Linked DNA regions of Homo sapiens. The protein of the gene in region 3 purifies or fractionates together with the protein of the main gene of each other region. This does not show direct contact. Each region holds a gene or a part of one and is shown on either strand. Other genes may lie near its edges. The genes, in order: ZNF318, KCTD15 and PRPF39.

Region 1 (10,369 bases), on a different chromosome or scaffold from region 3:
GACAGTAGAGAGCCTACAGAGAAGCCTGGGAAAGCAGAAAAATCTAAGAGCCCAGAAAAAGTGTCATCGTTCTCAAACTCCTCCTCCAACAAGGTAACAACTCAATTTTTCCATTTCTATCATCTTTTTTTTCCCTTAGACTCCTATGGTTTTCTAACCATTTTCTTAACTTAGGTTTTCAAACTGTTCTTACTCTTGTTAATTATTTTCTTACAGTATAGATCAGAGTGTGGTACTCCTCTTCAGAATTTCAGCATAGTTCCTTGTTGCCCACAAAGAATCCTAAATCCTCAGTATTCAGAACCTTCTATGTTCTTGTTCCAGCATTTACTCCCTAACCCACTCCTATCTGGCTTCTGATCTTCTCAGAACTTGTATATACCCTTTTGGGGGGTTCATATTTAGCAACTATGTTCATGTCTAGGTCACTACTGTGTTGCTAAAGTCAGTAAATACATTTTACTTCTCAAATGAGCAGCATTTGAGGCCAAGAATCACTTTCTCCTACAAATACTCTTTTCCCTTGGCTTCTGTCACACTTCTTTTCCTCGTAGTACATTGGATGCTCCTGCTTAGTATCCTTTGCTGTCTCTCTTGCATAATCTTTAAATTTTTGAGTTTCTCGGGGCTCAGTCCTTGCCAGAATTTGCTCTTTCTTCCTAGGCCATTTCATCCAGTCCTATGCTAAAATGCCATGTGACAATTGCCAGTTTTATGTTCTAGTCAAATGAGTCTTCTGAGTGTCTAACAACGTAACTCACCATTTCCACTTCATTATCTCATAGGCACTTGAAATTGAGCATGTCCTAAACTAAATTAATGGTTGTGCTCAACCTCCTTCCAACTTTTTCTTTCTCCATTGTTATGCATTCTCAATGAATGGCATACTGTCCGACAGTTTTCATGCCAACAACTTAAAAGTCACTCTCAGTGCTCTGCTTTCCCTAACTGCTCCATATGCAATCAATTACAAATTCTGTCAGGTCCCTCTCCAAAGTAAATCTCGATTCCATGCACCTTATCATCTCCATTGACATTCAAGTCCAAGCCACATCAGTTTTTGCTTATGTTGCTGTGTTAATTAACTCTTTTTGCACATATAGCCAGTGATCATGATACTTAATCCCTTGCCTACCTCCTCAACCTCATTTCATGCCTCTTTCCTTCTTGCTGACTGTAGTTTCATTACTAACCTTTTCATTCCTCAAATGTATCATCTCCTCTCGTGACCTCACATTTTCTGTTCCCTTTCTTTACCATGCAAATCGAACTCTTTCCTTATCTACTCTTCTAACTCCAATTCATCCTTTAGATTGGATCTTAAATTACTTCCCTGACATCCTTCTCTGATTCCCTAGACTGTTAAATTTGCCTGATATACACTCCCATAATATCTTGTAATTTTCCTTCTTAACATTTATGACAGATCTGATTTTATAATTAAATGTGTTCCCCTAATTTGATTTTAAGGTTCAAAAGTTACAGGGACTTTATATGTGTCATTGTTCAATATGATTCCCAATATATAGCCCAGGGCCCAGCACATAGTAATGAATACTGCTGAAGAAACATTATATTACATCTTACGCTGCGTCACCTCAAAATGCAATTTTCCGGATGTGCAATATCTGGTATTACACCTCTCTGGTTTTGCATAAATAATCCTATTAGCCTGGAATAATCTTTCTCCCAACCCCACTCACCCATTAAAGCCCAATTTGGATACCACCTCTTCCATGAAGAATTTCCAGAATTCCACCCAGATCTAGTCAGCCTTCTTTAGCACTCTGTAATTTGTTTCTTTGTAAAATTTATTTCGTTGTCTTATTTAAAGACTCTTCTTACGTCTGTCTCCACTAAATGAGAGCTGCTTTTTTTTTTTTTTTTTTTTTGGTTAAAGATGGGGTCTTGCTATATTGCCCAGGCTGGTCTTTTGAGACAGAGTTCTTGCTCTGTCACCCAGACTGGAGTGCAGTGGCGCAATCTCGGCTCATTGCAACCTCCGCCTCCCAGGTTCAAGCAATTCTTCTGCCTCAGCCTGCCGAGTAGCTGAGATTACAGGCACGTGCCACCACGCCCGGCTAATTTTTATATTTTTAGTAGAGACATGGTTTCACCATATTGGCCAGGCTGGTCTCAAACTCCTGACCTCGTGATCCGGCCTCCCAAAGGGCTAGGATTACAGGCGTGAACCACCCTGCCCAGCATTTTTTTTTTTTTTTTTTTTTTTTTTTTGAAACAGAGTCTTATTCTGTGGCGTGTGGCGTGATCTTCGCTCACTGCAACCTCTGTCTTCTGGGCAATTCTCCTACCTCAGCCTCCTGAGTAGCTGGAGTTACAGGCGTGTGCCACCACACCCAGCTAATTTTTGTATTTTTAGTAGAGACGGTTTCACCATGTTGGCCAGGCTGGTCTCGAACTCCTGACCTCAGGTAATCCACCTGCCCCCGCCTCCCAAAGTGCTGGGATTACAGGCATGAGCCACTGCGCCCGTCCCCAGGCTGGTGTTGAACTCCTAGGCTCAAGTGATGATCCTCCCGCCTCAGCCTCCCAAAGTGCTAGTATTACAGATGTGAGCCACCCCACCTGGCCCGAGAGGATAAAAGAGGAATCTTTTTTATCTTTGTGTTTCCCATTGCATACAATATGTCTAGCACATAGTACATCCTCAGTTAATATTGAGAGGTAGGAAAGAGAATATATTCTGTGTTATCACCCAAGCTCTATTTTTTTCCATGTCTTCCTAGGAGAGTTTTCTTTCTCAACCAGGTAGGCCTAGTCTTTTATACCTGGGTCTTCAGTCTAGGTAGGGCCTTTGATGGGAGAAGAATTTAAAAGCTCTGGTCCTTTGTAATTGACTTATACATTGGATTTCTATTCATGTACGAACCCAATGATAATCTGTCATCTTGATTTGGGTGCGTCTTCATGGTCTCTGAAACTAACGGATATGTTACAATTCAGTTTTCATCTCAGCAGTAAGGAATATTATGTCCACAGCCTTTCTTTCCTACCTGTCCTTGGTATTTCTTCTTTCTTTACCTCTCTTTAAAATGTATAGTTGGTTTGAGATTTTCTTTCCCTTTCTGTTCATTTCAGAAAAGCACATACAAACTTGTAATTTCATCTACCTAGAGACAACTGTTATTATTACTTTTTTTTTTTTTTTTTGAGACAGGGTCTCACTCTGTCACCTAAGTTGAGTGCAGTGACACAGTCATGGCTCACTGCAGCCTCCAACTCTCAGGTCCAAGCATTCCTCCCACTTCAGGCTCCCCAGTAGCTGGGACTACAGGTGCTCACCACCACCACACTTGGCTAATTTTTGTATTTTTGTAGAGTTGAGGTTTCGCCATGTTTCCAAGGCTGGTCCCGAACTCCTAAGCTCAAGTAATCTGCCCACCTCAGCCTCCCAAAGTGCTGGCATTACAGGCATGAGCCACTGGGCCCAGCCGAGACCACTGTTATTAATACCTTGGTGTATAATATTATTAATACCTTGGTGTATGTTATTCCAAATACATACACCAAGGTATTATTATATATTCCAAATACATTAATTTATTATTAATACCTTGGTGTATGTTATTCCAAATACATACACCAAAGTATTAATTCTGTCCATCAATTCACTTAACAAATATGTATTGGTCACCAATAAAGTGTCAGGAACTGGTCTAGATATGGGAAGTATCACACTGAACAGTATAGACAAGGTTCATATTCTCATTAAATAGCAGAAGATGATAAATAAATAAGTCCATGTTAGGTAATGAGAAGTGCCTAAAAAAAGAAAACAGGATAAGGAGTATAGAGTGGTTAGAGAAAGTATTTTGGATAAAGTGATATTCAACGCTGTATGCCGATTTACATATCTTTGTTGATTATTCAAGTGTATTTTATTAGTTTTCTCAGTATATCATGAACATCTTTCCATGTCAGTAAATACACTTCTATAATACCATTTTTAACAACCTTATTTTTTGTTGTTTTGGTTGCATGGTTAAGCAAAATTTATTTAACCAATCAAATCACCTGTTGTTTGACATGATAATTTCCATAGGATAAATGTCAAGGAGTGAATTGCTGGGTTAAAGGGTATACAGTATTTTGAGGTATGTAATGTATTCCTAGATTATCTTCTAGAAGATGGTGCCAGTTAATACTCCCACCAGGAGTGTATGAACTCTCCCATCCCCTGCCTGTCTGGTGTGATTTCTTTAGTGATTCTTGAATAGGACTCAGGTAGGGAAAGAGTATCTTTGAAGCCCCAATTGTTTCCCTTTCTGTATCCTACCTTTTTCCCTGCGTGAGCCAATATTCCAGGTACCCAGCTCTTCATCTTGTGTACTATAGAACCCCATTCATAGTGAGCCTCTGAGTTGCAAAAATTATCTTTTTTTCCTGTGCCTTACTCCTGAACATTAACCAAAATTCTCATTTCCTGAGTGCCTTGTTCCAGCTTGGTAATAAATTAATTCATATTAAAGTATTTGCTGTTGATAACTTTAATATTAAGAAGTTGATATATTTTTAAAAAGGATACATGTTAACGGTGTTAAAATTTTTTTTTTTTTTTTTTTTTTTTTGAGACAGGGTCTCACTTGTTGCTGAGGCTGGAGTGCAGTGGCACAATCTTATCTTACTGCAACCTCCGCCTCCTGGGTTCAAGTGATTCTCGTGCCTCAACCTCCCGAGTAGCTGGGAATACAGGTGCACACCACCATGCCCGGGTAATTTTTGTATTTTTAGTAGAGATGGGGTTTCACCATGTTGGCCAGGCCTGTCTCGAACTCCTGGCCTCAAGTGATCTGCCCACCTCGACCTCCCAAAGTGATGGGATTACAGGTGTGAGCCACTGCACCTGGCCTCTAAAGTTGTTAAATTCTAAAAGTGATATTTTAGGCAGTTAGGAATGTTTTTCCTAGATTCCTTTAAATCATTCTACATAGATGACTTTATCTATGTGTAGTTGTATAGTCTACTTTATCTATGTACACCAACCCTTCTCTCCAGTTTTTCATACCAGGATGCATGTGATGAGTTCACTATCACCTATTTTCTGCATTTGCTTTGCTTAGCCTGTCAATTACCTTTTCCATATTGGTTTTTCTTCCCTCCCTAGCTGTCATGATTTTCAAATTTAACTGTTTAGTTGCATAGGTAACATATTCAACATTTACTAAAGGGTATACAGTGAAGAGACTCCTACCCATCCTTGTTCTCCACTTCCCTTCCCCAGAGGCAGCCAATGTTTCCACAACCTTGGCTGTTCTTCTAGAGATATTTTAGGATATGTAAGTAAATATATTGCCATTATGATTTACTTTTTATGCTGTGATAGCACTATGAAGTCAAATAGTTCTATGTCTTAGAGACATGTTTCTGTTAGGGTTCCCCCCAACTTGTGCAGCTTTAAACATTGGAAATATGGTCATATGGCCCTATTTCTATTATTATGGCCACTTACTATTTCTAACAGAAGACAAGTCTAGATTGCCTTGAATTCCTTGTAAGTACAGATTTTTCCCCTCTAGGAATCAAAAGTAAACAATGAGAAGTTTCGTACTAAGAGCCCCAAGCCTGCCGAAAGCCCCCAGTCAGCCACTAAGCAGTTGGATCAGCCCACTGCTGCTTATGAGTATTATGATGCTGGCAATCACTGGTGCAAAGACTGCAACACCATCTGTGGGACCATGTTTGATTTCTTCACTCATATGCACAATAAGAAGCACACACAGGTTGGTATCCTACTCTCTGTTATTTTCACTCCCACCCTCACTCTCTTCAAACTTCTATACCCCTATCTGCATTGCAAAGCTGGAAAAGGAAACATTCTCATATGGGCAGGAGCCCCAGTCTGAAGAGCCAAGAGACACCAACAAAGGAGACACCATCCCCAGGGCTCAGTCCAGGGGACTTGGCTGTAACTAAACACCATGACAAGTGTAAGTGAGGTTTCTGCCTCTTTTGATTCCTTGAGTACCTGATTTTTTTGTTTCATTTTACCTTTTTCTGGTACTTGCTCTAACATGTGTTTACCTTTTCCACAGGTGATTTCCATTAAAACAGTTGGCAGAGGGGGTGGGGGTGGGTAGCTGGGGGCTTCTGGTCCCCTGGTCTTATTATGGGGGAAAAAAAAGAGAAAAGTGGGTCATTGAGCTTTTAGTGCTGTTGTGTGAGCACCTCTGCCTCTTACAAATAGACACTGGATCCCTACAACAGACCTTGGGCTTCAAAGACCCAGAGTGAGGCCAAGCAAGATGCCATAAAGCGCACTGACAAGATAACTGTTCCTGCAAAAGGTATGTTTCCTTTTTGCCACCTTTGTGGTTTCCTTACATTCAGTTGAGGAAGAGGTGTCCCTGAACTAACATTGTAGGAAGCAGCATAGCATGAGACAGCCATTCCTTTTAACAAAGCCGTAGGAATGCCTTCTGTGTACAAAACAGTGTACTAGGTCCTGAAGCTATAAAGAGATCTATAAGACCATGATCTCTACCCATATGGCCAAAAATCTATTCACAGATGTTAAACATAGACATGTCACTTAAAACAGAATTGTCTTTGTCATTGGCTTATGGGCCCAAAATCTTACTTGTTTGGAATCCAGGTTAAAAAGGACAGGAGATGCAGTAATTTAACTGCCTTTTCAACTAAGAACTATACAATATTTTGAGTCATTGTTATTAAGGGGTAAGTGGAGAAGCAGAAACTTCCTTTGTCTTTAAACTTCTCAATTTCTTTTTTTTTTTTTTTTTTCCTCTGAGATGGGGTCTCTCTCTGTTGCCCAGGCTGGAGTGCAGTGGTGCTATCTCTGCTCACTGCAAGCCCCGCCTCCCGGGTTCACCCCATTCTCCTGCCTCAGCCTCCCAAGTAGCTGGGACTACAGGCGCCTGCCACCATGCCTTGTATTTTTTGTATTTTTAGTAGAGACGGGGTTTCACTGTGTTAGCCAGGATGGTCTCGATCTCCTGACCTCGTGATCTGCCCACCTCTGCCTCCCAAAGTGCTGGGATTACAGGCATGAGCCACTGTGCTCAGCCCATAAACTTTTCAATTTCTTACCTTCACAAGTAGCTAGTGCTGCTACTATACCCTTGAGATTTACAGAAGATAGTTTCCTCAGTAATTAATACCAACATGAGAGATCATCATAAAATGGTAATGGGCTATTTGGGAGTATAGTTTTTATATTTCCTGAGATGCTTGGTGCTAGTTAGGGTTTGAGGAGACTCAGCAACAGGAATTAATCTGGCACAGGAAACTCCTAAATTAACCAGTATAATGTTCCCAAGAGGTAGAAGAAATAGAGGACTGTAGTTCAAGCCTTAGGTTGGAAAGACTGTGCCATTGGGATTCATCTAAATACTGCTTCTGACTTCAAAGTGGGTAAGGCCCTCTATACTGTAACCATTTTACTGCAAAGGGGTGGTGGGATTTCCATTGGTTGCTGTCATTCTGGGTGGAATCGACTTATTTCCTTGACTTTTTTCTACTTCTTCCAGGCTCTGAGTTTCTGGTTCCCATCAGTGGATTTTATTGCCAGCTCTGTGAGGAATTTTTGGGGGATCCAATTTCTGGGGAGCAACATGTGAAGGGTCACCAACACAATGAGAAATACAAGGTTGGTCTTTGTAGTAGGCTGTGGAGTTTCCAACTTTTCTGAAGTAATTATTTTGACTTTGTCAAATGGCGTCCGAGCCAGAAAAAGCCATTGACACTTCAAATTCCATATAACCTCTAAGTTCTCCTCAATCCTAGTGGGAGATGCTCAGCAGATAGCATCCCGTATGTCCTTGAGGAAGATAATTCTGGGGATTTCTACTAAATGAATTCTAACAGTAGCGGGGCCAAGATTTTTTTCTCTTGTATTTTCACCAGTTTTTGAGTCTTTATCTTTTTTCTTCCCAGAAATATGTGGATGAAAACCCATTATATGAGGAGCGGCGGAATCTGGACCGCCAAGCTGGCTTGGCTGTGGTCCTAGAGACAGAACGGCGACGGCAGAGTGAGCTAAAGCGCAAACTTAGTGAGAAACCAAAGGAGGAGAAGAAAGAAAAAAAGGCAAAGGCTGTGAAAGAAGTAAAGGAGGATGACAAGGTCTCTGAGAAATTAGAAGACCAACTCTCTGAGGGTAGGAACTCCCCTGAAAAAGCTGAAAATAAAAGGAACACTGGCATCAAACTCCAGTTAAAAGAAGAGGTAAAGAAGGAATCACCAACATCATCTTCTTTTGGGAAATTCAGCTGGAAGAAGCCAGAAAAAGAAGAGGAGAAAAGTTCATTGGTGACCCCAAGTATCTCTAAAGAAGAGATTCTAGAAAGTAGTAAGGACAAAGAGGATGGCAAAACTGAAGCTGGGAAGGCAAAGCCTATCAAAATCAAGCTCTCTGGGAAAACTGTTGTTGCACATACCAGCCCTTGGATGCCTGTTGTGACAACTTCCACACAGACTAAGATCCGACCCAACCTGCCTATTCCATCCACAGTACTCCGCAAGTCATGTTCAGCCACAATGAGCAAGCCAGCTCCTCTTAACACCTTTCTGTCTATTAAGTCCTCTGGAACCACTGCTAAACCTCTGCCAGTGGTTAAAGAGTCTTCAGCTGATCTCCTCTTACCTCCAGACATCATCTCCAAAGCATTTGGAGGGGAAGAGGTGATTCTAAAAGGGTCTCCAGAGGAAAAAGTGGTGTTGGCTGAAAAGAGTGAGCCATCTCATTTACCTGAACAAATACTACCACCTCCTCCACCACCCCCACCTCCACCACCTCCACCACCCCCCGTTATACCTCATCCAGCTGCCCCGTCTGCTGCTCAAGCAAATGCTATCTTGGCTCCAGTAAAATCAAACCCAGTTGTATCTCAGACTCTCAGCCCTGGCTTCGTGGGTCCTAACATTTTGAACCCAGTGTTGCCTGTAGCCATCATGGCCTCAGCACAGCCAGCTGCCATTCCTTCTGATGAGACAGCTCCTGGGGTGAGTGAGAGTGACCGAGACCAGACCCTGTTCTCTGTGTTAGTACGTCCTCCACCACCCCTCTCAAGTGTGTTCAGTGAACAAGCCAAAAAATTAGAGAAGCGAAATTCATGCTTAGCCACAGCCAATGCTAAGGACCTGTATGACATATTCTATAGTAGTGGTGGAAAGGGGGCCCCTGAGACTAAGGGGGCCCCTGAGACTAAGCTAAGTGGTGGTCCATTGGCCAATGGGGAAAATAGCAACCTCTCTAGAACCAAAAGTTCAGACACCTCTTCTACTTCTCCTTTGAACAGCAGTGCATCCCAAGAGGAGTTGCATCAAGATGAGGGTTTGGTCGCTGCTCCTATAGTTAGCAACTCTGAAAAGCCCATTGCAAAAACTCTGGTGGCCCTAGGGAAATGGTCAGTTGTAGAACATGTAGGCCCAAAAAGCACAGGCAGCACCTATGGCTTCCTACAGCCTCTGACAAGGTTGTGCCAAAGCAGGCCTTATGAAACAATTACCCCAAAGACAGACACTTTGGCCATATGGACCTCTAGTTCCTTCCAGAGTGACACTAGTAGGGATATATCTCCAGAGAAGAGTGAGCTTGACCTGGGAGAGCCAGGACCACCTGGTGTAGAACCACCTCCTCAACTGTTAGATATACAGTGCAAAGAATCTCAGAAGTTGGTAGAAATCCACCTCAGAGAATCTGTTAACCAGGATAAGGAAAGCCAAGAGCTCCGTAAATCTGAGGATTGTAGAGAAAGTGAGATAGAGACAAACACTGAACTAAAAGAAAGGGTAAAGGAGCTGTCTGAGGGGATAGTTGATGAGGGAGTAAGTACCAGCATTGGACCCCACAGCATAGATGATTCTAATTTGAACCATGGAAACAGATACATGTGGGAGGGAGAAGTAAAACAGCCCAACTTGCTAATGATTGACAAAGAGGCTGAACAGTCCAATAAATTGATGACAGGAAGTGAAACTCCAAGTAAAGTAGTGATCAAATTGAGTCCACAGGCTTGCTCTTTCACAAAGGCAAAATTAGACTCATTTTTATCAGAAGCTAGGTCTTTACTCAACCCACAAGATACACCTGTGAAAATTTCTGCCCCAGAGTTGCTGCTTCATTCCCCAGCCAGATCAGCTATGTGTTTAACAGGTAGTCCACAAGAGCAAGGAGTTTCAGTTGTTAGTGAGGAGGGGCTAGAGAATTCAGCTCCAGAATCAGCTTCTAGAACTTCTAGGTACAGAAGTCTCAAACTCAAGAGAGAAAGATCAAAAGACTTTCAAGTTAAAAAGATCTATGAGTTGGCTGTTTGGGATGAAAACAAGAAGAGGCCAGAGACCTGGGAGAGCCCAGAGAAACCAAAAACAGAAGCACTGGAGCTACAAG
Region 2 (10,369 bases), on a different chromosome or scaffold from region 3:
TTGGGCCCCTGTGAGCGGGACGGTGGCTGAGACCGCCTGCTGTGGCTTTGCGAGTTCTCTGCACTCACTGGCAGGGGTTTGGTGGGAAACGGGGAAGCTTTGGCATGGTTCTGTCCAGTTGCTTATAATCAAGAATAATGAGTTTTGAGGTTTACAAAGAGCAGAAGTAACATTTATACGGCTGGCATTTGACAAAAGATTGCTGATAATATACTCATTCCAGGAAGTGTAAAAATGCTTTAAAGGAATGATAATTTGTACTTACTGTTTATGGGGACTAGATATATTAGAATTATAGCATCATTATGGGGACATAGTGTTTCCCTATAAATTCAGAAATTCTCTGGTTGATGTAAAATCATACTTCCTGGTTTTACTTAATTAGTAAAGAAATAAATAAATTAGAGTAACATTTAGTCAGGTAGAGTTACTCCTTTTTCCCCTTCTTTATTAATAAATTTTATTTTTAGCACAATCATTTACCCAAAAAGAGAGTTTGAGAATGTTCGAGAATCTCTACCACTCGGTAACCATGCTGGCTGTTATATCAGAAAAATCCATAAACATACACAGCAGCGAGCTGTTTTCACAAGACTTCCTGCTAATAAACACAACACTTTCTCCTCCACTCAGATGGGAGCCTCAGATGCCAAAACGCAGATGTGCCAACTAACTATAGGCTCGTTGCTAAGCAGAGAAACCTATCAAGTTTGTCCAGCAAATTCGATTGTACAGTGGGATGGCGTCTGCTCTGCGGCCTTGGACAGGGAGCCACTGGTCTGTGCTGCTGTCCCCTGAGGCAGGTCGAAGCTGGTGGCCCTTAGAGGGCAGGTAAAATGGTTCTCATGGGTTAGAACATAAGGGCTTTGAGAAAAAATGCAAAAGGTCTCATTGAAATTGGAGGCCTATGTGAATCTGTTTACATGGAGGCATACTGAGATCTCGTTCTGTGCTTAGGTGAACTGCAGGTCTCACGCTGGCTGCATGACTTGGTGCCCCCTGGCTGGCTGAGCCACTGCCTGCCACCTTCTCATACCATTACGTGGGGGTCTAAAGAGGACATCATCCCCAACCAAAGAATAGTGAGAGAGAAAATCCCAAACATTTGAGACAGGGTTCAAAAGCACCCAGACGCCTTCTGTCTCTTTCCCAGTTCCCATCTGGCTAGGGACTGTGAATCAGAATTCAGAATCTGTGCTGCCCTGAGGGGACAGGCACCCAAATGCAATAAATAACACCAAGCTCAGGACCCAGCCACTGACCTTCCTCCACCACTGCTGCGGGTTATTCCTCGATGGGAACTGAAGGATCCAAGGGAGGAATCCGTTCCGCCCCCAAACCTCCCTGCACAACATCGAATGCGGGAGTCTGGCTGCTGCTTCTGCACAGGACAGAGCCTCCAGTCTTTTGCTTGAGAGCATCATTTATGGCATGGACTGGGAACGCAATGTGTTCACACAAATGCACGACAATTGTACATCAGCATCTTTACAATATTAAAGGAGCCATATACAAGTCTACAGCCATTGTACACAGGATGGTGATGGCTGGGGAGCCCCGCCCACCAGTCCTCTGCAGTTTCTCCACCGGAGAACACTTGGGGAGCTGTCACAAGGCCAGGGGGGGTCCATCTTTGGGCCTGTCGTGGGGGAGGCAGCAGGTCTGCAAGGACTCCTCAGGGCCAGTCCTCACTGGAATCAGGGGTCAAGAGCGCCAGGTCTGCCTGTGTCTGGGTCTCATCGGCAGGCTAGTGTAACAACGTGAATTAAAACTGTGCATATTCGCATGAGAAAACTGGAGCTGGGGATGGCTCCCTGAGCTGGGGACCTAGAAGACGCTGCTGACAGATGGGCCCCTTCATGGTGGGGCCCATTCCTGAGGTAACGTGCAGCCCTGAGGCTGGTCCGAACGGGAGGAGACTTCTCCAGCAGCCCAGGTGCCAGTCCACACAGACAGGACTGGAAGCCCCTGGGCAGCAGGTCAGGTGACCCGGGGAGTGCAGCCTGAGCCCCCAACGGCAGCAAACGTGAAGGTCTCAGGTGGTTACAGAATCACTCAGCCCTCAGGCCCCCACCACTCTCCTCCCAGCAGCCCTGCAGCACACATCCCTGCATCTGTCCCGAGAGCCCCAGCCCTGCAGGCATCTGGGCCTGAATGCCAGGCAGCTGGTCCACCCTGCAGCCATGCTGCACGTCTGACTGAGAACTGAGCACCAGATAAAGAAGCATTGGTCCTTGTCAGCCTCTCTGACTTTTGCAGTTAGGGCTGCATCCATTTTAAATACTGTAGAAAATAAGCCATCTCTCGGACGCTAGGAGACCCGCCAGAGTCTGCCCCGCGTGGAGAGGGATAAACAGCTCCTCTGAAGTAGCTGCAGACGGCTCTTCCAACCCCGCCCCAACAGGCCCCGGGGCCTCAGAGGATGCTGCGCCAGGCTGCGAAGCTGAGGGGCTGGGAGAGCTGGCAGCAGAGATCCCACCGCTGTATCTTTGGGTCGCATCAACAGTCCTTCTGCAGGCATGCCTCCAGCATCCCACGTTCTGTTGCCATGACACCTGGGACCCTGGTGCTCGCTGGGCCAGCTTTGGACCCTCCAGCCTCACCCTCGGTCTCATGCCCACGGCCAAGTATACACAGGCAGAACTCCCCAGCACTGTTTCCAGGTCCCTGGGGGGGCCCAGGTGGGCACTGAAGCAGGGCCTAGTCCAGGGGTTCCTGCTTGATTCGAACAGCAGTGGGGGTGGGCTGCGGCCGCCGCTCCTCCCGGCAAAGCACATACTCGCTGAACTGGGAGGAGTCCACACCGCCCCCACAGGACGCAGCCACGCTGAAACCCCTCTGGAACAGCCGCTCCAGGACCTGCCCAGGAAGAAACAGAGGTCATCAAGGCCAAGCTGCAAGAGGACACCTGGCTTGGCCTGGCAGGGAGGTGGGTGCCTGCTGGGGCAGCCAGCAAGGGCACCTTCTCCTGTGACGATCTCAGTCTTGCTCACTGACAAAGGTCCCTACAGAACCACGTGCTGGGTTCCACCACCAGAGGGACAGAAGTGGCCAGGCCCAGTGACCCCTCAGGTTAGCAAACCTAGTTGGACGACCCCACCCAGGCCACCATCCTGCTGCCCTCAGGGCCTTGATTCCGGGAGGCAAAAAGAGGCTTTGGGTCCCTTCTTTATTCTGTAGGGTGTAACCTATGCCCTCTCTCCAGACACATGGCCCCAAGTGTCCTCCCTGAGTCCTGCCCCAATAATGGAGAGTTCCCTGTCCTTCAGCCTCTAGGCATCCACCAGCTTCCCTGAGCTGTGCATTCCAGGTGGTTTGAAGCCTGGGGGTGCATCAGCTCGTGGGAGCTCTGGAGGGAGAGAAAAAGGAGAAGTCCTCTCAATATTTGAGTCTCTGCAGGCGTCCACAACTATGTGGGTTTGTGCCTCTGTGAGGGTGAGGTCTGATGACTGCGTGTAACACCCGTCTCCTGCAACTAGCAAGTTCTGACCGACAGGCTGTGGAATGCGTGCACAGGGGGCCCTCTTCCCTGCAAAGCCCATTCCACCCTAACCCGGAAATGTGCCAAGCTCTTGGGTCTGCGAAGAGCTGTTGGAAAATAGGCCCTCACTCCATCTGAGCTGTCCAATTCTTGGACCCATCCAGGAAGAGCCGGTCCAGGGATTCTCTTGGCAGCTGGTGGGTGCCTGCGACTCCCAGGTCAGCAGGGAGAGGGAAGGGGCTCCAGACCACCTTTCCACTCAGCCTCTGTCCTGCCTCGCCTGTTGCCTGGGTTTAGTTCGAATCCAAAGTCAGACTCTGGGTGTCAAATGAAGCACGCTTTGTTGAAAATACTCTGGGCCATTTTTATAGAACATCCTTTTGGAAAAAAAAAAAAAAAGTACAGATCGATTTTTTTAAGTCCATCCCCCAGGCGCCATCATTTAATTATGAGAGGGACATAAATTATGCATCGACACATTGTTGCCTTTTTTGTAGGATGGCACGGGGGGCTTCACCGTTTCAGGGATCGCGCCTCCCTCCAGCTCACTCTGCCCCTGGAGGGCTCCGCGGACGCCGGGGGTGCGGCGGGGAGGGGGCAGCGTGCAGCCCTCACCTGTACCGAGTTGAGCCGGCAGTAGCCATTGAGCGGGAAGCGGATGACGTGCGTGGGGTCCTGGTTCCAGCCGGCGTTGACGGAGTTGCACATGACGTCTCCGGTCTCGGGGAAGACCTCCTCGATGAGGGCCTTCTCGCCGCTGAGTGCGATCCGCTCGCCCAAGTCGGGCGTGACGCGCACCACCAGGCAGTCACAGGCCCGGCTGCGGCGCCGCTGCTCCTGCTCCTGCTGCCAGCGCTCCAGCTCGCGCACCATGGGCTGGAGCTGATAGTAGCGCGCCTCCTCGTACAGCAGACTGAAGTCCTGGGGACAGGCGCACAGGGTGTTGATGTGGGTGTCGGAGTAGGGGTGGTGGGGGAAGGGGGAGAGGGGAGGCGGCCTGCCGGTTCCAACCAATTCTGCAGGAACTGCGACTCGCAGGGTATTGTGTGGACTGGGCCGGTTGCACCCATTGTACAGATGGGGCAACTGAGTGGTTTGCAAGTATAAAGAACCTAGCCTTGTCCCAAGGGCAGCCGCTGATGTGCACCTGTGCCAGCCCCCCTGAGCCCTTCCATCTGGCCCCAGGCACTGGGCAGTGAAGCCTCCCCATGGAAAGACCTGGAAGCTCCACTAAAGGACGAGGCTGTGCCTATGCCTGGGGACCTGCTGCTGCCTTAGAATCCCACCGAGAGAAGAGATCATGCTGGGCACAGGGCAGCCGGGCCTAGGAGCTCACAGCCTACCCGGAAGCAAAAAAAGTTCTTCTCCAGCCAAGCCTGCCTGGGTCAGATTTTCAGCTTCATCATCAACCTGCCCTGAGACCTCTAAACCTCTATACCTCACTAACTGAGCCTCTTGGTTTTTTTTTCGTTTTTTTTTGTTTTTTTTTTTTGTTTTTGTTTTTTGAGACAGACTCTCTCTGTCACCCAGGCTGGAGTGCAGTGGCTCGATTTTGGCTCACAGCAAACTCCACAATTCTCGTGCCTCAGCCTCCCGAGTAGCTGGGACTACAGGTGCCTGCCACCACACCCGGCTAACTTTTATGTTTTTAGTAGAGATGGGGTTTTCCCATGTTGGCCAGGCTGGTCTTGAACTCCTGCCCTCATGTGATCCACCTGCCTCGGCCTCCCAAGGCGTGAGCCACTGCGCCCGGCCTCAGTTCCCTTATGTATAAAATGGACATAAACAACCAGCTCAGAGAATGAAAGTGAGGATCAAAGGATGCAAGATGTGCCAAGTGCCTGGTCCAGCCCCTGCCCAAACAGGCAGAGTGTGATAAAGTGTCCAGGGAGGGGAAGCCCGCCCCCTGCCACGCAGCCCCCTTCTGGGCTAAGCAGCCTCGCACAGACTGTCCCTCAGGCGCTGATACTGGCCCCATGCCCTGGGCCACATATGCACACTATACACGCTCACACACACCCACCCCACTGGGAATGGCCAAGGTCCCATAGGTCCCCATGACTCATGCCTGAGGAAGAGGCAAGGAAGCCCAGCCCCCTGACCTACAGGCCCTAAGTCCCTTCCACCTGCTGGCCGCCTGGAGGGAGGCCTAGATTCTAACCCTGACCTCTGGGCCTGTCATGGGTCAGTGGCCCATCCTGCCTCTCCTGCCCCATGCAAGGGCTCCTCAGGGCTCTATCCTGGGCCTCTGCTCTCTCCACTCTCACTTGCTCCTGAGATTTTTATTTTATTTTCTTTAGACAGGGTCTCATTCTGTAGCCCAGACTGGAGTGCAGTGATGTGATCATAGCTCACTGCAGCCTTGAACTCCCAGGCTCAAGGGATCCTCCTGACTCAGCCTCCCGAGCAGCTGAGACTACAGGCATGAGCCATCATGCCAGGATAATAATAATAATAACAATAATAATTATTTGTAGACACAAGGTCCAGGCTGGTCTGGAATTCCTGGGATCAAATGATCCTCCTGCTTGGCCTCCCAAAGCACTGGGATTACAGGTGTGAGCCACCTCTCCTGGCCATTCTCCTGAGATTTTAAATGACAACTGCATGACAGACAACCCCATCTTTTGTCATGGCCCAGGATTTCTCCATCTGATGCCCCACCAGCTCTCCCATGCAGGGGCAGAAACCCCACTCCCACAGCCTGGTCCACCCCGGGCCTCAACTTACCAACTCAGAATTCAAGCCACAAGTCCCGGGGCACCTGCAAGAGGCCCTTTACACTACCACAGCCACGTGCTTTTGCAGCTTGCTTGCTTGTTTATTTATTTACTTATGAAAAGTAAATAAATTACTCTTAAAAAACTTTAAAAGTAAAGTTTATTTATTTACTTATGAAACCTTGCTCTGTTGCCCAGGCTGGAGTGCAGTGGTGTGACCTCAGCTCACTGCAACATCCACCTCCTGGGTTCAAGCAATTCTCCTGTCTCAGTCTCCCGAGTAGCTGGGACTACAGGTGCACACCACCACGCCCGGCTCATTTTTGTATTTTTAAGAGAGATGGGGTTTCACCATATTGGTCAGGCTGGTCTCGAACTCCTGACCTCAGGTGATCCACCTAAATCGGCCTCCCAAAGCGCTAGAATTACAGGTGTGAGCCACCGCACCCGGCCTTTTTTAATTAAAAAACAAATTTGTATAGACAGCATCTTGCTATGTTGTCCAGGCTGGTCTTGAACTCCAGGCCTCAAAGGATCCTCCCCATTCGGCCTCCCAAAGTGCTGGGATGACCAAGTGAGCCACTGTGCCTGTACTAAACAGAAGTCTGATGTGCCACCTTGCTCCATCTTCTCTATCTCCATCCTGGTCCATCCAAAGCCTCCACCCAGCCTCCCTTGGCCTGGGGAAGGGGCCTCATCCATAATTGCCTCACTGCACCCACCCCCACCCCTCTCTGCCTTCTTCCCCACCCAACAGCCAGAGAGATCTTCCCAATTTGCAGATCTGACTGCCCTTCCCCTGCACACACCCCTTCCACTGCATTCAGAGTTAAATGCCAGGCACTGGGCCACCCACCAAGGTCCTGACATCAAACAGCAGCCTCCTTTCCTGACCTTCCCCTCCCAGTCCATAAAGCTCCAGGCTTGACACCTTCTTTCCAGTTCTGGAATGCATCAAGCCATCTGCCACCCCCATCCCCTGCACCAAGGCCCTCACACCTGTTTGGCCCCGTTCTGCCTTCACCACCCAGATGAACATCATTTCTTTCAAACCCGCCCAGCCCAGGTCACATGGACTTCAAGTTCAGTATCTGTCTGCCCGCTAGACTGTTAAGTGTTGTGGGGCAGGTCCTAGTGTGTGTGTTTCACTGTTTTCAGCCTGAATTCAGAGGCTGGCACTCAGTAACTGAGCTGGATGAAAGACAAGGCCCCAGGGCTACTGGTCCTCTGGATAGAGGAAGGAATGAAGGAAGGAAGGACAGACATTTGCTAGTATTAATACATGCCAGTGTACCCCAGGCCTGAGTTTCCTTCCTCCCAGAGTCCCTGACATGTGGGAGGGGCTCAGCACTGAGGCATGACCCAGGGAACCAGGTCACCTGCCCTGACGGGCTCACCCGGAGACCTGGGGGTTAACCTTTTGTTTAAAGGGTATCTGTTTGGTCATCAGGGCTTTTCTCCCTGCAAATTGCCCAACACAGAACAGATTTTTTTTTTTTTTTGAGACAGAGTCTTGCTCCGTCATCCAGGCTGGAGTGCAGTGACGTGATCTCGGCTCACTGCAACCTCCGCCTCCACCTCCTGGGTTCAAGAGATTCTCCTGCCTCAGCTTCCCAAGTGGCTGGTATTACAGGCACCTGTCACCATGCCCGGCTAATTTTTGCATTTTTCTTTTTATACTTTATTTTTTGAAGTCTAATTACAGCCGTCCTTTTCTTTCTCTTTTTTGAGACGGAGTCTTGCTCTGTCGCCCAGGCTAGAGTGCAGTGGCGCAATCTCGGCCCACTGTAACCTCTGCCTCCTGGGTTCAAGTGGTTCTCCTGTCTCAGCCTCCCGAGTAGCTGGGATTACAGGCCTGCCACCACGCCTGGCTAATTTTTCTATTTTTAGCAGAGACGGTGTTTCACCATCTTGGCCAGGCTGGTCTCAAACTCCTGACCTGGTGATCCACCCGCCTCGGCCTCCCAAAGTGCTGGGATTACAGGCGTGAGCCACCGCTCCAGGCCTAATTTTTGCATTTTCAGTAGAGATGGGGTTTCATCAAGTTGGCCAAGTTGGTCTTGAACTCCTGACCTCAAGTGATCCACCCACCTTGGCCTCCCAAAGTGCTGGGATTACAGGCATGAACCACTGCACCCAGCCGATGGAACAGATTTATGAACCTCTAACTACTATAACGCTGGCACGCGCCCATCCTTAAACACGACAAATGTTCAGCTGGGATACGTTCTGCAGCTTGATTGTTGTTATATACCCTGATAAATAAGCTAAAAATGTGAGAAAACAAAATTAGTTTAGAAAAACTGATTTAGCCCTCGGCTTCATCGTTTAACTTTTTATGGTTACCATGACAACCAGGGGTCCACTTATTAAGTCACAGCGTCCCCTGTGTAATGCCATCACACAGGCAGTGCAGGGGGGCCACCAGCCATGGACTTACCTTAAAGTCATCCGGAAGCAGCAGCTTGGACGTCCGCAGGAAGCTCAGGACGTAGCGGAAAATCTCCCCATCCCGGTCAATGAAATAATGTTGCTTCAAACTGTCCAGGACGATGGGTTCAGTGCCATTGAAGAGGCGGCTTATCCTGGGAGAGACAGGCGAGGTGGGATGTCTGAAGGGATGGGGACAAGTCTGCCTGTCTTCCCACACCCCGCCCCCACTCCTGAGGGCCCACACGGCTGGAGGGGCGAGGGACCTGACATGGGTGACTCTGGAACTGTTCCAGGCCTGACAACATCTGCACACACCTGGGGCAGCCAGGCTACAGTTAACAGGACACACCACACATCCTGCCTACACCCGCAAGTCACAGCCAGAGAGGGACACACCCAGCTGTACACACCAGCCTGCCAACACACGTTATGTTACAGGCCTGGAAAGGTATAGCAAGACACAGGCACCTTACCCCCTACACACAAACCAGCTGGTCACAGGCCTGGTGCACACACCCTTGCCAGATAGACCCACCCAGAAAATGCACATGAACCATCCAACACCCCGGCCAACAGCCACACACCCAGTAAACGAGCCAGGACATACATCCTCCCCACCCAACCCATGTAAACGAGTGTGAGACACACAGGCCTGTGCAACAGGCACAGGGTCACATGGTCCCTTCCTTCCCAACACACACATATCATGCAGATCCAGACACATCCAGGAAAGGACACACACCTGTCAACACCAGGCACCCAGAGACATGACGGCACAAATCCCCTACTGCCGCTCACTCAGGGAGCCCACAGGGAGAAACAGAGGCAGACAGGAGGGATGGCAAGTGTGCCACAGCACACACATGCAACAGGGCCCTTGCACACATGCCACAACACAGGCATACACACACGCACACAGAAACCATGCACACACATGCACCACAGTGCATACATATGTGCACACATGCCAGAGCGTATGCACACCACACCTAGTGGTGGCGGATGGGGACTGGAGAGAAGGCAGGTGCCGGTACCCTGTCCTCTGAAGGGCAATGGTTCTAACAAATGCAAGACCAGGAGAAGGGTCTTGGGGAGCCCCTGATGCCTGTCCCTGTCCACTCCGGGGAGAAGGAGCCAGGCCTCAGAGCCAGGGCTGATACCACCTCCCCAGTGCCCAGGGTGGCCAGCTCTGGTTTGGCAACTGCCCTGGCAGACCCCAGGTCGAGCTAGGGATAACTAGGAACCCTAAAGAGGGGTGGGAGTAGCCAAGGGCTTGGTTTGGGAACAGGAGGGAAGTTGGCATCATTTCCCCAAGGGCAGCACCACCACATCCTTCAGCAGGCAGGGCCACACTCCTGCCCAGCTGGACCCTGCCAAGGTGGCAGCTTCTCTGCACAGCTGGGAGAACAGTAGCTCCAACTTGGGACCTAGGCTTCCCAGCCCGGCCTGCACACAATCTGGAGCCTAAGCCCCTCACTCTCTGCCTGCACCAGCAGGGACCCCTGCAGGGATGCCCCCTGTTCTAACAGCAGCCCACTCCTCTGTCCACTCCAAGTCAGCCGTCTCCAGGGCCCTGCCCCACTGCCACTTGCACCCAGGACACACTAGCTGGGCAGGAGCTGAGGGAGTCAGAGCCCCCAAGTCTGCCCTCAGGGCCTCCCGTCCACACCATCCTATGCTCTGATGGCCCAGCACACTCAATGCATCAGCCATGATGGTCTGCCCGGGTATGGAG
Region 3 (10,369 bases):
TACACACTGCCTATGGCTGTTTCGGGGCTACAATGGCTTACAAAGCCTGAAAGTCAGAACACGTGGCTTTTACTATCTGGCCCTTTAGAGAAAAAGTTTGCCAAACTCTGCTTTACACCATCCCTTACCACTCAATTTGTCACTGTTTCCTGAAATAACTTAAAATCTCAAAAATGTCAACTGAATTTCTCCACTCTTACCCTGCTGTTCCTCAAAAGCTGCCCAAAGCATATGCACCATGGGTTTCTTTGGGAGATGTATAGTACAAGCTCTGCTGAAGACATGCCTCACTCCTTCAATGCTATGGTTTTCCATGTACTTGGCATACTACATACAGAAAAGAGGAAATACTGAATAATTTACAGTTGAACAAGCCATTAAATTTGTGACAGAACGATAAAATTCTATTTTTAAACCCATTCAGCACCTTTATTGAACCACTAGACTAGTTTCTGTAAGGAAGGACGAAGAGAGGCAACGAGGTTGGCATATGCAGCAGTCAAATCTGGTTGCAAGCAGACCATCTCCTAATGCAACAGATATAGTTATATGAACAACATTCAACAGAAGTACAAAAAAGGTTAGTCACTAGATCAATGTTTATAATATATTCAAGTTTAAGAGCACATGATTTTCTTACCTTAATCCAAAACTCCTCATAGAGGGCACATGATATGACACATCTTTCAAAGAGAACCACAACTCGTTCATGAGTCCCATTTTCAATTTCAAATTCTAAGTATTCTTTCCAGTTTTTTAGTTGTGCCTTTTCCAAAGGTTTCACATGAAAGTAAGGTCTTTTAATCTGAAATGAAATTGTAACATGCCAATGAAAGTAAACCAATATCACCAAAATATGCACATGTACAGTGTTAATACAAATAATTTTAAATATAATTGATGATTAAAATTTTTAATCATATTTCATAATTTAAAAAACTTTTAAAATTAACCCTTAAATTCCTTAAGCTTTACAAACAAATGAAATAATACATTTTCTCTCTATTCTGCCATTTTGCCAATTACATGCTTTTTAATGTACAGAACATTTTATACTTTGTTGAATATTTTAAAATTGAACAACCATAGTGACAGAAAGCAGATCAATGGCTGCCTAGTGCTAGGAGTGGAGAGGGGAACTCTGGCTGGAAAGGGGCCAAGGGGACCTTTGGAGTGCTAAAAGAGTTCTGTATCTTGATTGCTGTGATGACTACAATGTATATACATATATCTGTGAAATGATTCCATATTCTAAGATTCCATTCATATGAAAGGCCATTATAGGGAAATCTACAGAAACAAAAAGCAGTTGGTGGTATCTTAGCACTGGGGGTAGAGGGTCGCAGCTGAGGAGGTAGGGGTAGTGACAACTAAAAGTTAAGGTGTTATTTTTTGAGGTGGTGATTATGTTTTAAAATTGACTGTGGTGATGGTTGTACATATCTGTGAATATACTAAGAACTATTGAACTGTATACTTTAAATGGGTGAATTATATGGCATGTGAATTATATCTCAGTAAAGCAGTCAAAAAAAACCAAAGAATTAAAACTGTGGGAAATTACCTCATTTTACTATATATCTAAAATGGGTGAATTGTAATGTATGTAAAGTATAACCCCAAGAAGTTGACTTTTAAAAATTGAACAATTAGAATAAAATTGTTCAGATTAAGCAGATATCTTGCAATTCAAGTAAATCTGGATTCAAACATTCTAAAACTCATCAGGGAAAATGGAAAAACTGATAATGATTACAATAAATGAGACAAACATCTGAAGTTATGGCTTAAATATGCAAAAATAAAGTTACAACAGAGATAGTACTATCAAAATTGAAAGAAAAATAAATTATTCCTACTTTGTATTTTAAAGACTATTACAAAACAAAAACACTTACACCTTCTTCAAATGTCCACCTTTTACTAACTTCATGCTCATTATAATTAAACATTTCTTGATGAATCTCAATGATTCTATGTCTCATGTTTTCTATTTCTGTAATTAGCTTGGGAAGAAAAAGGGAAAAAAATAAATCTCACAAACTGTATACTGAAAATTTTCAATATCACTGCTTATATTTAAGTATTATTCACAGATATTTTAGTCTTAGAATAGTGGTAGATTTTTAACTGTTGGCAATTATGTGCAAAATCCAATTAACAACACTAAAACTTATCACACAACTTCCTAATTAACCACTTTCATATTTTTTCTTTTTTTCTTAAATTGGGCTAGTAGATACACAACCTAGGCAAAATATTCCTTCTAAGCTAAGTTTTTTTTGGGGTGTCTTGTAGTAAAATAGATTCTCTACCTTAAATCTATACATACAAGCTACTGAATCCCCACTTGCCTTAATCAGAAATTAACTTCAAACAAGCTACAAGTCACTGGGTAAATGGCCAGTTATATAAGTGATCACTGTGCCACTCATGGAGTCAAGGGATAACAGGTCCAGTTTCTTCTGCACTAAAGACCTTTTTTTCCCCCCGAGATGGAGTCTTGCTCTTTGGCCCAGGCTGGAGTGCAGTGGTGCCATCTTAGCTCACTGCAACCTCCGCCTTCCAGGTTCAAGCAATCTTCCCACCTCAGCCTCCCAAGTAGATGGGACTACAGTCATGTGCCACCACACCTGGCTAATTTTTGTATGTTTAGTATAGACAGGGTTTCACCATGTTGCCTACATGGGTCTCAAACTCCGGACCTCAGGTGACCCGCCTACCTTGGCCTCCCAAAGTGCTGCGATTACAGGCATAAGCCACCATACCTGGCCACTGACGAACTTTAGAATAAGACTGGTTACCTTTGCAGGATCGGTTATGTCTTCAATTCCCGATGGTAGATCATCACCAGGAGGACCATCATCACCACTATGACCATTTACAGAAGCTAATTCCCTTCGCAACTGAATAAACTGTTCACCAGTTAAAAGATCTCTAGGCAAATTATTCTGTACATGTTCTTTAAATCTAAAGGAAGACAATAAAAATATATGTATTTGAATCATAATTTTAGATCTCATATTGAGATTCCTACTATATACTACTCTTTCAAAGGATTTGATTTAAAAAAGAAACCAAAATATCATACCTTTTCTCCTTCTTTTCTATAGTAAAATCCTACCATATATGATAAAACACTACCATATGATAAAACAGTCTATAGACATCTTCAATTTCTTCCTACCTTTACAGTGGAATGGAGAAGGCATGGACGGGCATAAATTCAAACCTCAGTTCTGTCTGTTACTGGTTATCTGACTAGGGAAGGTTTTCTTTTCTCTAAATCTTAGTTTCCTCAATTGTAAAATAAGATGATAATACCTATTCGTGTGTCATAGAATCTATTTTACTACAAAGACATAAAAGTTACAGTAAAATTAAATACTGTAATCCATATTTAAATTCTAAATGATCACTTGTAAATAACCAACAAATATAGCATTTCCTTCCCACCTCCCAAATACTCCTCATCCACATGTGAGTACGCAAAAATCCAATGAAACTGCCCAATTAAGATTATCAATTACCTCATATATAAAATTAAATGGACACTTGTTTTGTAGTATGGTCCTCCAAGCCTCTGACTGCTGCTCTATGTCTTATTCCCCTTCTTACCTGCCCTAAATGCTACTATACCCAAGTATTCCACTCTCCATTTGGTTCTCATCTATTTTTATTAATACATACTTCTGGCCAATCTCATTCATACAGCTTGAAATAAGTATACCATGATGACTCTCAAAACTACAACACAAGTCCAAACCTTTCTCCTAATCACATTAGCATATACAACTGCCAATACTCTGCACAAAGAAATGTGGATTAGTTTTAAGCTAATCTATAAAAAGATTTTTGAAAAAAATATCATTTCACTATTTTATAAAAACATGCAATAATTTGTATACATACAAATTGTAATCAAAAATACCAGGTTGAGGAGCTAAAATATCTACACTATCACAATTTGAATATACCTTTGGAACCTCAAATATGAAATATTTTAAAATAAGTATGGCATCTTCATCTGAAAATGAATACCCTCAGTATTTCTTTCTTTATTTTCTTGTGTGAGATGGAGTCCTGCTCTGTTGCCCAGGCTAGAGTGCAATCGTTCTATCTTGGCTCACTGCAAGCTCCACCTCCCGGGTTCAAGCAATTCTCCTGCCTCAGCCTCCCAAGTAGCTGGGATTACAGGTGCGCACCACCACGCCCAGCTAATTTTTCTAATTTTAGTAGAGACGGGGTTTCACCTTGTTGGCAGCCTGGTCTCGAACTCCTGACCTCAGGTGATCCACCCGCCTCAGCCTCCCAAAGTGCTGGGATTACAGGTGTGAGCCACCGTGCCCCGCCACCCTCAGCATTTCTAATATTGATTAATGGTACTGTCAACCACTACATCTCTCAATCTCTTCCACCTAGCTTTTCATTTACATTAGATACCAGGTCCTACTGACTGTACCTTTTAAATACATGTTCATCACCTCGGGACTTTTAAGCTGGATAAACATAAAATGACCTTGCAGCCTCTAGTCTCACAACTCCCATTCCCACCTCTATACTACTATCAGAAATGTTACTAAAAAGTAAGCAAACAGGTCAGGCGCCTGCTGACGCCTGTAATCCCAGCACTTTGGGAGGCTGAGGTGGGCGGATCACCTGAGGTCAGGAGTTTGAGACCAGCCTGGCAAACACGCTGAAACCCATCTGTACCAAAAATACAAAAATTAGCTCCGTGTCGGGGCGGGCACCTGTAATCCCAGCTACTCGGGAGGCTGAGGCAGGAGAATCACTTGAACCTGGGAGGTGGAGGCTGCAGTGAGCCAAGACTGCACCACTGCAATCCAGCCTGGGCAACAGAGCGAGATTTCACCTCAAAAAAAAAAAAAAAAAAAGTATATAAATAACATTGGAATCTAATTTAAATTTTGCAAAGTCAATGGATACAGAGGCTAACGGCCCATTTCAGCACCAGGTGGAAAAAAATTAACAAAGATTGCCTTATGTTAAAAAATTAAAAATAAGGAAGTAACTCTCAAATATGTAGTATGAAAAAACAGATTTAATTACAGATGAATATTAAAACTCAGAATGGTCAACAAATGAATTAAAAACTTAAGGTAAAATTTCAAAATAACTACATACAGTACATAAATCTAAAATGACTTATTGCTACATCATGTAACAACTTCTTTAAAACAGTGACAAAATGTGCATAATATTAAGCAGTATTTTTTCAGCAGTTTTTTGTATTATAAAGCTAACATTTATTCAGTAAAGACTGGCTGACTGCCTAATATATATTGAGCTCTATTCCTAAATATTAGAGATACAAAGAATTAAGCCTCAGAAACTGACAGGCATGTTGAGGATATAAGAGACATAAATTCAAAGCAGTGTTACTGGTGCTAATATAAATGTAAATAAATGTAGGTAAAGTCATGGCACAAATAACAGACTAGGTATCTCAGTATAGGAGAACCAGAGAAAATTTCACAGAGAAGACACAAAACTGTGTGGTCTCAGGGAATATAAGTCCACTAGACAAGTGGAAAGAGGAAAAGGTATTACAGTCATAAAGATATAAAACAACACTGCCCTTTGGGAAGTTATCAGACTTAGGTGTGTCTAGAGCTCAGGAACCACCAGGGATTGGACCTGGATGTTAGACCAGATCACAAAGTCCTCATGCTAAAGAAGGATTTAAATTAGACATTATCTCAGAGATAATGTGCAGGGTACATCCAATGGTACAAGCCTAATGCACAAGCACAATAAAAATATTTCCATTATTACTGTATACCACTTAGAATATCTTTTTTAACACACGCCTCCTCCTCTATCCTTCTGACCAACTCACAGGCAACGCTATTTACACATGGCTTCTTTGGGCCTTCATTCCTACAACTTAAATAGCCTATCAACAGGTACACAGCAAATGCTAAATAAATGACTTTAAGAAAGAGGCATGTGTTATGGAAAAAAAAAACAAAACATTCAGTGGTTCTCAAAGCAGTTAGTCATGTGAATTAACTTATATAAACTATAAGAACTGCATAAAGATTACTTGTGAGTTCACTATAACTGATAAGGAAAGTGGTTCTAAATGCATTAAGTGAAAAATATCAGATTATAGATCAGTATGTGTAATATAATCCCACTAATATCTATTGTAAGTATATATGCATTTTTAAAAGCCTAGGGTAACTGACAACTTAAAGAAAAATAAATAAATAAAAGCCTAGTGGGATATTTATTTAGAAATAAAAAAGATTTGTAGGAGAACATATCAAAAACTTCAGGGCCATACTGTCTAAGTTCCAAGTAGCTTCCAATCACTTACAAACTCTGTGGCCTTAGATAAATATGCTAATCTCCCTGTGTCTCCCCTTTCATAAAATGGGAACAATAGTACTTGCCTCACTGGGTTACTGGGAGGATTAAGTGAGTTACAAAGCACTCAGCACAGTGTCTGGGATATAGAAAATGCTATGTGTGTTTCCTACAAATATTTTTTTTCCATCATCAGTAAAGTTCTTGTAGTCATAGATTTTTCCTATACTTTAAATCACAGAAGAACTAGTCTATGAAAAGACACCCTCTTTGGCCCATCAGGTAATTTAAGTACTTTTGTACTTATGTGTTTGGTAACTATTTACCAAGCATTTCCATATGCCAATTCTTACTTGTGTTAACATCTTTCAGCAAGTGTCTTCCTAGGTCGTTATACCTTAGAAACCTGCCTGCTTCCTCTATTTCATCAAGAGCAGAGAGAATATTCCTATCTATATGCTTCCTATTTCTAACCTGAGTCTGTATAACTTCTACCTTTAGCACATTGATCCTTAGTACTTTACAAATGCTTCATAAAAGTCTTCTACTTTTGGTACTAAAAAAAAAATTTAGAAAATCACTCACTTAAAAAGTACCTAAGTTTATACAATACTACTCATAAAAATTATAACAAAAAATAGAAAATACTAAGTTTATACAATACTACTCATAAAAATTATAACAAAAAATAGAAAACATGCCAATTTAAAAGCAAAGACACAGTCCTCATACTCGTTCAGAAAGACTTTCTGGATCCTTATTTATGGGATACTCTGAATAAAGCAGAAAACAGAACACAAAAATAATGACACAGAATTAGTTGTTTTAACAGTAATCATTAAAATAAAAGGATACCAATTGTAACAGAAAAATCATTTTAGAAAATTAAAATGGAATGATACCTGAGTGTTTGAAAATAGATACTACTTACTATATAAAATGCATCCTTCACTGTTTTGGATATAAGGTGTTATAGCAATCACAATAATGTATATTTAGCAAATCATTAAGTTTCAAAAAAAATAAGCATCTATCATGTGCCAGGCACTGTGTCAATTTAATGCCATAAATAAATAACTCAACTTAGGTACTATTTTCTCATTCCTTCATTACTCTGAACTACCTTAGACAAGACAGAATTCCTGTTTCTCTTTATCCATTAAAATGAATAAGGAGAAACTTCTATCTAAAAACAGTAAAATTTCTAAACATTTCATAAGGCATATGAAAAAATGTCAAAAGCAAGCATGTAGGTTGTGATTAGCAACAAAATTTATTCCTCTTTCCACATAATAAAAGCTTACATAACATTCCAAGATAATTATAATACTTAATATTACCAACTATCTGAGTAATCAAAGATGTTTCAATGATCAGAATTTCCCACCTACCTCTGAAAATGATGACTATACAGCTGTGTTGGAATACCAAGAATACGATCATATATAGCTGTAACTTCTCTCAGGTTTCCCTGCTCATTTTCCCAGTTTATATACATTTCCCACAGTCTGTCAGAACGGAAATCTGTTCCTGCAGCTAGAACAGCATGCTCAAAAGTTCTGAAAAATTAAATTACTCTTAAGTTATCTTTCCAAGATAAAATCACTTTTAAAATATTATTTCTAAATTTAGAAGATAATGCTAACTTCAAAAATTATATTCAACTGCTTCCTATGCAAGTAGGGATTAAAGGGTAGACAGAATAACAGAAAGCATACAACAGCTGCTTAAAAAGAGTGAGAAAACAAAGAGAATAGATAAATGTACTTTTTATGTAACTTTATCAAATAGAAAATTAAATACAAAATGTACACATTGCAAATAGGTAAGAGTAGACATGTAAGTATTTGTTAAATCTGAAATGTCTATTGTATAGATTGATTTATGACAGAAGACAAAATTAAAACAAGTAGGAAGTTAAAGAGAGGCAAATTTTATCTCAATTTAAGAATATTTTCATGAGGCATGGTGAAATGGTTACAGGCGTGATTACAGGCTCATGCCTGTAATCGCAGCACTTAGGGAGGCTGAGGCGGGAGGATCACCTTAGGTCAGGAGTTCAAGATCAACATGGCCAACATGGTGAAACCCCATCTCTACAAAAATACAAAAAATTAGCCAGGCATGGTGGCACATGCCTGTAGTCCCAGCTACTTGGGAGGCTGAGGCAGGAGAATTGCTTGAACCCGGCAGGCGGAGGTTGCAATGAGCCAAGATTGCACCACTGCACTCCAGACTGGGCGACAGAGCGCGACTCTGTCTCAAAAAAAAAAAAAAAGTATACATATACTTTAAACCTCTCAAAAGCCCCTCTCAATTCTAAAATTCTATCATTAAAGTTTTATCACAGGCTGGGCACGATGGCTCACACCTGTAATTCCAGCACATGAGGCCAGGAGTTTGAGACCAGCCTTGCCAACACGGCGAAACCCCATCTCTACTAAAAATACAAAAATTAGCCAGGCGTTGTGGTGCACATCTGTAATCCGAGCTACTCGGGAGTCTGAGGCATGAGAATCACTTGAACCTGGGAGGCGAAAGTGGCAGTGAGCTGAAATTGCACCACTCAACACTGCACTCCAGCCTGGATGACAGAGCAAGACTCTGTCTCCAAAGAAAAAAAAAAAGTTTGTTACAAAGTATTTTAAAATACCTAGTCATGTCAAGAGATTTCTGTAAGCAATTTTAATCACTGGATTTAATACTCCAATGGGATAAAGCTTTTAGATACATACTTTCAAGATAAGTATCTTAGAATCAAGAGAGATTTTTAAAAAGTATAAAACTACACTCCCCTAAGTTAAACCACAATTTTAACACAATTTCAATAAAGCGCTAAAAAATGTTTAGTGGAACAAGAAAAAATCAAATTCTACTATTCATCTAGAATACAAAAATGCAAAATGACTTTGTAAAAGGATAATGCAGCAGGCATTTTCCTGAAAGATAATATAAGAAACTAGGAAGCTATAGTAATTACACGTTTGGCACTGGCCAGGTAACAGAAAAATGGATGAACAGTACAGAGCCAAGAAAACAAAAAAGAGATCAATGTGTGTGAGTATTTGGTGTATGATATAGGAGATACTTTAATTCAACAGTGGGAGTATATAAAAGGCTAATGTCTATCTCACGACAGATAGAAATTAAATTCAGATAAATGAATAAGCAAAAAACTATAGAAAAGTTAGAACAAAATACAGGATTTATATATTTTTGGTAAAATAGGCACAAAACTCAGGAACCAGTAAGAATTAAAACAGAAGCACATTAAGGAAAAATAAAACTCCATATGATAAAAGACACCATAAACAAAGTTAAAAACATACCAACATTGGAGGAAATATGTTTAATATAGAAATAAAAGATTGAAGAGCATGTGTGTCTGTGCATGCATGCATGTGCATATTTGGTGTAAGGTTTTCAAAAGAATAAAATAGATGTTACTGTCCCTACAGAACCCCAAATGATTCAGAAAATTAACCAGACACTGAAAAAAGTATGGAGAAAAGGGGAAGAAGACAAGAAGGTAATGAAATGAAGACAGAACGTTTAGAAGAAGGTATACTTAATGAATCGTGAGAAATCTTCAACTTTCCCGCCCAGCTATGGGGATTTCAGAAGCTAGGTGTCCATTCCCCAAGTAAATAAAATTATCCTTTTCTAAACAAACTGCTTGGCTCAGGAATAAGATATAAGGTTACTATCACTGGGAATCCACCAGCAAAAAGAGTGGCCACATGATTACACTACTGTGAAACACCATAGGCCAACTGACAATGCCCCATACAAAACACACAGTGCTTCCATATGCTTGTGTTTTGTTTTGTTTGTTTGTTTGTTTGTTTGTTTGTTTTTGAGACAGGGTCTCGCTCTGTCACCCAGGCTGGAGTGCAATGTCACGATCTCAGCTAACTGCAACTTCTGCCTTCCAGGTTCAAGCAATTCTCCTACCTCAGCCTCCTGAGAAGCTGGGATTACAGACTCCTGCCAGCATGCCCAGCTAATTTTTTTGTATTTTAAGTAGAGACAGGGT

What was found.
Region 1: the proteins of PRPF39 (region 3) and ZNF318 purify together in Homo sapiens (affinity purification with mass spectrometry; 2 studies listed by BioGRID and IntAct, with this or other methods). This does not show direct contact.
Region 2: the proteins of PRPF39 (region 3) and KCTD15 purify together in Homo sapiens (affinity purification with mass spectrometry; 2 studies listed by BioGRID and IntAct, with this or other methods). This does not show direct contact.

The regions. Positions count from the first base shown.
Region 1 is NC_000006.12:43,338,048-43,348,416, reverse strand, and holds part of ZNF318 (zinc finger protein 318), read left to right. Parts: coding exon 1-93; intron 94-5,537; coding exon 5,538-5,741; intron 5,742-6,205; coding exon 6,206-6,305; intron 6,306-7,508; coding exon 7,509-7,627; intron 7,628-7,914; coding exon 7,915-10,369.
Region 2 is NC_000019.10:33,805,280-33,815,648, reverse strand, and holds part of KCTD15 (BTB/POZ domain-containing protein KCTD15), read right to left. Parts: intron 8,791-10,369; exon of another isoform or gene 8,787-8,790; coding exon 8,642-8,786; intron 4,403-8,641; coding exon 4,097-4,402; intron 3,859-4,096; coding exon of another isoform or gene 3,847-3,858; exon of another isoform or gene 2,860-3,846; coding exon 2,701-2,859; coding exon of another isoform or gene 2,277-2,700; 3' UTR 1-2,276. UniProt on the Homo sapiens protein: During embryonic development, it is involved in neural crest formation. Inhibits AP2 transcriptional activity by interaction with its activation domain.
Region 3 is NC_000014.9:45,100,052-45,110,420, reverse strand, and holds part of PRPF39 (pre-mRNA-processing factor 39), read right to left. Parts: intron 7,893-10,369; coding exon 7,725-7,892; intron 2,971-7,724; coding exon 2,805-2,970; intron 2,007-2,804; coding exon 1,899-2,006; intron 806-1,898; coding exon 641-805; intron 328-640; coding exon 201-327; intron 1-200. UniProt on the Homo sapiens protein: Involved in pre-mRNA splicing.